2 linked regions of the Homo sapiens genome follow. The protein of the gene in region 1 interacts with the protein of each later gene in a pairwise test. Each region holds a gene or a part of one and is shown on either strand. Other genes may lie near its edges.

The links.
Region 2: the proteins of KRTAP21-2 (region 1) and CLCNKA interact in binary tests that used the Homo sapiens proteins (3 or more experiments, as listed by UniProt).

What each region holds. Positions count from the first base shown.
Region 1 is NC_000021.9:30,746,276-30,748,760, reverse strand, and holds KRTAP21-2 (keratin-associated protein 21-2), read left to right. Parts: upstream 1-1,501; 5' UTR 1,502-1,558; coding exon 1,559-1,810; 3' UTR 1,811-1,967; downstream 1,968-2,485. UniProt on the Homo sapiens protein: In the hair cortex, hair keratin intermediate filaments are embedded in an interfilamentous matrix, consisting of hair keratin-associated proteins (KRTAP), which are essential for the formation of a rigid and resistant hair shaft through their extensive disulfide bond cross-linking with abundant cysteine residues of hair keratins.
Region 2 is NC_000001.11:16,028,528-16,032,350, forward strand, and holds part of CLCNKA (chloride channel protein ClC-Ka), read left to right. Parts: intron 1-233; coding exon 234-318; intron 319-598; coding exon 599-772; intron 773-1,203; coding exon 1,204-1,273; intron 1,274-1,437; coding exon 1,438-1,548; intron 1,549-1,933; coding exon 1,934-2,147; intron 2,148-3,182; coding exon 3,183-3,316; intron 3,317-3,675; coding exon 3,676-3,764; intron 3,765-3,823. UniProt on the Homo sapiens protein: Anion-selective channel permeable to small monovalent anions with ion selectivity for chloride > bromide > nitrate > iodide. Forms a homodimeric channel where each subunit has its own ion conduction pathway.

The sequences.
Region 1 (2,485 bases):
AAATCTCAAAATTTTAGTACAACAAATAGATCAATACAAGTATATACAGAAATTTGAAAAGCTGTTACTGTTTAGGAATGCTTATATTTGGGCAAAAGAAAAGGGGAAAAGAAAGAAAAAGTTTTGTCTCCACCATGTATCAGGGTCATTGCTACACTACTTATATTGCCTGTGTATTTTCTGTAGGCCTCTTAATAAAATTTTAAATAAAAGTAATTATTTTTATTCCCATTTGGCAGTTGCAGAAACTGAGGTTCATCTAAGTTGAGGACATTTTCCATGGTCATATAATTAGGAAAAGACTCAGTCAGGAAATTAACCAATCTGTTTTCCAGGGAAAGCTATTTCTACTACAGAGCCTCTGGAACATGGAGGACATTGTACTGATTATCAATTTGTGGCCCCTCAGCATCTAATTCATCCTTCAGTATATTCTCTGTGCTGATAGATGGGATTCCTTTAAGTATTTCTCCTTCACTGTGAGCATGGCTTCAAGTTTTCTCAGGAGAGGATGCAGCAGGGACATTGCAGGAGGAAACAGAGCTCCTGCATTTTTGGGTGTGGCACAGAAGGGCAGTAGAAGGTATCAGCAGTGTGGGTTAAGGATATCCAATGAAGCTCCACCTCAGTTTTGGGTCCAGGATATGCTGGAAATTATTATTCAGTAGAAAGCACCGATGTACAGCATAAACATCAGAGTGGTCCAATTATTATGGATATCCAATTGTTAATTCGGTTCTTAAACACAAACAAACCTGTGTTTAAGAACAGAATTTAACAACTGGACATCAACAACAAAGTTGTGAACCAAGGAATTCCCCTCACTTTAAATGGAAAAATCAAAAGTTTATTCTATAAATTTTAAATGACACATATTACATAACTGACCTGTCAGACGTTTAACAAAAATTTTTTTTTCAAGCAAGAGAAGGTCATAGACTGCCTAGAAAAGGGGGGAATGGTCAAACTTTTCTTCAGAGAGAAGGAGAGGGTTTCAAGAAGTTGAGGTAGCACGTGGAAATACCCAATTCTTTGTCCAAAAACCATGATTTAGTAATTTTTAGTGACTATGATAAGAAAAGAACACCAAGGTATTAGGAAAGAATAAGAAGAAATGATGATGATGATGGTATTAAGAGCAGTGAGAACTCCTTATTAAATAGATAATTCTCAAGACCTTACAAGAACAGAAAGATAAACATACATTTATAGGTCAAACATATTTTGGTGATGTGTTATGTCATGGCTATGAAATGAAACTATGGAAAACAAAATTATGGTTGTATAAGCTTGTGTGTTTAGAACTTGTATATTTGTTTTCTTTTCAGGCATAAAAATATTCCTAGGGAAGTCATAAGCAAATTATGAATTCCAAAGAAAGTAGATGTACACAGAATGAGCTCATTTTAGGCAGATGATTATAAAATGAGCAAATAGAGCCCATGTGAGGATGACCCATGCATCCCTGGAAGTATATAAAGGTCTTAGAAGAGTAGAGGACAGTCACACTTCAGAAATATCCTCCTACACCTCAACTGAAATCTAACCTCCTGAAATCATGTGTTGCAACTACTACAGAAACTGCTGTGGGGGCTGTGGATATGGCTCTGGCTGGAGTTCCGGCTGTGGATATGGTTGTGGCTATGGCTGTGGATACGGCTCTGGCTGTAGATATGGCTCTGGCTATGGAACTGGCTGTGGCTATGGCTGTGGATACGGCTCTGGCTGTGGATATGGCTGTGGATACAGCTCTAGCTGCTGTGGCTACCGACCACTTTGCTACAGAAGATGCTATTCCTCTTGCTACTAATCATCACTACAGGTCATCCTTGGCTTTGCAATGACCTCTCCAAGATCAAGTTCAATTGAAATCTCCCCTACCCATTATCTTCACATCTAAGTAAAGGTTGACTATGGTCACCTGACTATCTGAATGCATATAAGAGAAGCTGTTGGCAGTGGATGGAGACTGAGTAGTTTCATCACATCGCTGAAGAGAGGAGATTTTATTCTGATTAATTTTCTAGTGTAATTTTCTAATGTAAGCTCTTACATCTTTTTCTGAATCTTTGTGCCATGACTATTTGCTGAAACACAAGAGGACTATATAATTGGAGCATACTAAAATGGAAAAAAAATAGAATTTTCTTAATAAAAGGCCTTACTCACTAAGAAGTCTGGTCTCCTTAATGTCTCCTTAATTTGAGGTTTTGTGGCTTCCTCAAAAGCTGTGTGACCACAACTTTAAATAAGACAACGTTATTTTATTGGTTGAATCCAAATACTTGTGTTTTACATATTTCTTAATTCCTTGTATGTTAACTCTTTACATTTTTATTTAAACATGAACACAAATATTAAGCTCAAAATTTTAAAATATGCATGAAAAAAGAATTAGAATAGAACCAAGAATGAGACAGGGGATCTACTCATGAGGTTAATGCACTAGTTCAGCAATGACTATCTTGTTTGAGCTTAAGTCAAG
Region 2 (3,823 bases), on another chromosome or scaffold:
TCCTGCGTGATTCCTCTGCCCTCAGTCATACCCAGTTGAGGGGCTCACCCCACGGGTTCTACCCGCTGGAGGGGGCCATGTTCCCTGCTCCCGCCCTTCCTCCTCACCAGTCCTTGCCTCGGTATCAGCCCCCAGGTGGGGAGCTCTGCTGCTGCCTGGACCAGGTCCTACTTCCCTCTCCTCGGGATGTAGGAAAGGGAGGGCCAGCCCTAGAGCTCACCCACCCCCCACAGCAAGCCTGTGTACTCCGCTCTGGCCACCTTGCTTCTCGCCTCCATCACCTACCCGCCTGGTGTGGGCCACTTCCTAGCTTCTCGGGTAAGGGGTCCTGAGCGGGGGTGGCAGGAGTGGGAACCCCCATTTGTTTTCCCCTTTGCATGTGTCTCACGTAATACCCTCAGCACCCCACCAGGGTGACACCTGGGCATCATTCTGCAGATAAGGAGACCATGGCTCTGGGAGGTCAGAGCCCTGCCCAAGGCCCCCCGCTGGGAAGTGGCAGGGGAGGATTCCAGGCGGGGTCAGGCGGTGCGGGGGAGGCTGGGGTCTGCCGCTGGGGGGGGCCCCTCATGTCCAGTTCCCACCTGCCCCGCCACAGCTGTCCATGAAGCAGCATCTGGACTCGCTGTTCGACAACCACTCCTGGGCGCTGATGACCCAGAACTCCAGCCCACCCTGGCCCGAGGAGCTCGACCCCCAGCACCTTTGGTGGGAATGGTACCACCCGCGGTTCACCATCTTTGGGACCCTTGCCTTCTTCCTGGTTATGAAGGTGGGCCCCCTGACCCCCAGGTGTGCACAGAGCCAGGACCAGCTCTGGTGGGGAGGGGCGGGGGTGCCTCCCTGCACCTGGTGGCATGGAGCCCAGGCCTCTCACCCACACTTCCTTCTGTGCCCCCTGCCCACTGCATGGTCCTGGATAAGTGGCTTCAGGTCTCTGGACCTCAGTCTTCCCATCTTTAAAATGGGGTGGTTACTGGGAAGGCAGAGAAGGAAGAAAGGAATGTACCTGGCACAGTGCCAGGCATACAGTGGGCATTTCTCAGGGTGAGGACCCTCCCCTAATGCCAGACTCTGGCAGTGGGTGCATGGCTGGCACCCTCTTTCTATCTAGGACACTCCCCTGTCCCCTGTCCTGTCTTCTCTTGTCCACACCTTGCCCAGCGGCCTCTAACCTCTGCCCTGGGCTCCCCCTTCCTGCAGTTCTGGATGCTGATTCTGGCCACCACCATCCCCATGCCTGCCGGGTACTTCATGCCCATCTTTATCCTTGGTGAGTCTGGGGTCCTGAGGTTCTGAGAGTTTTGGGGTTCTTGGGGCAGGGCCATGCATCCTGGTTCACCCTCTTCCCGGGTGGTACTAAGGATGGTCCTCAGGGATGGAGGGCTGTGGGGGCCGGGTCAGCCTGGCTCCCCCTCACCCTAAGTCTGTGGCCAGGAGCTGCCATCGGGCGCCTCTTGGGAGAGGCTCTTGCCGTCGCCTTCCCTGAGGGCATTGTGACTGGAGGGGTTACCAATCCCATCATGCCCGGGGGGTATGCTCTGGCAGGTGAGTGGGTCACGGCCCTGCTGGGTGGGCAATGTCGTGGGGCTGGGCTGGACCTGGAGAATTGGCTGGTGGTTCCCCAGGGCACGGAGCAGTCACTGAGTCCTCCAGTGAACCCCCTACCCCTCATGGGGGTCTGTCCCTCCTGAGCCCCACCATTCCCCGGGGCCCATCACTTCCTCGTGGCTCCTGTCCCCAGCCCTGCGGCCTCCCTTATCCCTCTCCTCTCACCAAGCCCAGGCCTTGGGGCACTTCCCACAGTGCCCAGGCTGTGGCCTCTTACAATTCCCACCCTAGCCCCCGGCAGCAGCCAGGCTAGTTATTCCCTCACATCAGGCTGGCCCCTGCCTCCTGGCCTGAGCCGACCTGTGTGGCTCTGCCCCGGCAGGGGCTGCAGCCTTCTCAGGGGCTGTGACCCACACCATCTCCACGGCGCTGCTGGCCTTTGAGCTGACCGGCCAGATAGTGCATGCACTGCCCGTGCTGATGGCGGTGCTGGCAGCCAACGCCATTGCACAGAGCTGCCAGCCCTCCTTCTATGATGGCACCATCATTGTCAAGAAGCTGCCATACCTGCCACGGATTCTGGGCCGCAACATCGGGTGAGTGGTGCCCACCTCAGGCTGACTGAAGGGGGTCACAGTGTTTGGGCTTGGCTGGGGGTGGAGGGCACCTCCAAAAAGAAACACCACCGCAGCTGACCTCCGACATGGGGGCTGGGAGGGGCTGACACACAGCTGTGCTCTCATCTCCACTCTCCCCAGTGCCCTGGGTGACCTTGGGCAAGTCCTTGGCCTTGAGGCCTCAGTGTCTGTCTAGGGGTCAGCTGGGCTTCACAGCAGGAGGATGAGTATTGCCCCGTGTACAGATTGAGGAAACCAGAGCTCAGAGAGGTGCCGTGTCTTGCTCCAGGTGACACAGAGAGTCAGCACCAGATCCGAGAGGTCTCCTCCCCTCTCCCCACTCCTGCTGTCCTTGCTGGGACTTTGGGAGCAGGAGGTGGAACGAGAATGGAAATGGGCTTTGAAGTCCTCACTCAACCAGATAGGACCAGAGCAGCTTCTGGCGCCAGAAAAGCAGACCAAAGAGGCTCTGAGAGTCCGAATCGGAGGCCCCGCTCCAAACACAAACAAGCTGCTGCCTTGCTCTGAACCTGTTTCCCCATCGGGAAAATGGGGCTGTTTATACCAGTGATTTTCAACCTTCCAAGTTTTTCCTTGGGGGTGACATACACTTTTATAATCAAATGGAATTATCCAGGGAAGGCTGCTGGGTCTGTACTCCAATCTCATTATTCATTAATGGATGGCCAGTCACTGACCACCTGGCAGATACTGGTTTTCCGTCATCTCACACTCAGCTCTGTCCAAGGTGGGACAAGACCCAAGTGAAGCTGGTCTGGGGGACATGGGGGACCAGGGGGTTGGGGATTTGGAACTGGGCCATCAGTAATGTGGTCCCCAGGTTTCCTCCCACTGTGGGTTCTAGGAGTCCCTCATTCCAGGAACCTCTCCAGCCCTGCTCACACTCCAGAGCCGTGGGTCCCTGGTTCAAGCAAAGCTCCCCTCAGATCCCCTTGCTGGCCTGGGTCTGACATCCCCGACTCCGGGACCTGATGGGAGCCCCTCTGCCTGCAGCTCCCACCATGTGAGGGTGGAGCACTTCATGAACCACAGCATCACCACACTGGCCAAGGACACGCCGCTGGAGGAGGTGGTCAAGGTTGTGACCTCCACAGACGTGACCGAGTATCCCCTGGTGGAGAGCACAGGTGCCCAGCTGGAAGGGAGGAGGAAGTCGGGGGTAGGGGATGCCCTCTGCCTCCTTCTTGAACCTGTCAGGCAGACAGGATCTGCATCCAGGCTCTGTGACTTAGCAACCAACCGTGTGACCTTGAGCAAGTCACTTCACCTGAGCCTCAGTTTCCTCATCAGCAAAATGGAAATCATGGCTACCCTCCCTTGGGGTGGTTGACATGTCTAAAGAGAGTCGGCTGGGTGCTTGTAAGGCAGTCCCTGGGCAGCTGCTGGGGTAGGAGCATGGGGACACCACCAAGGTCTTCCGGAAGCTTGGCCCTCAGGCCTGTTTCTTCATAATGCACCTCCCTCCCTCTCCCTCTCTACTTGCCAGAGTCCCAGATCCTGGTAGGCATCGTGCAGAGGGCCCAGCTGGTGCAGGCCCTCCAGGCTGAGCCTCCTTCCAGGGCTCCAGGACACCAGGTGGTTACTCCTGAGGGGCGTGGGGATGGGGCGGGGGTGGGTCAGCAGGGATGGGAGGG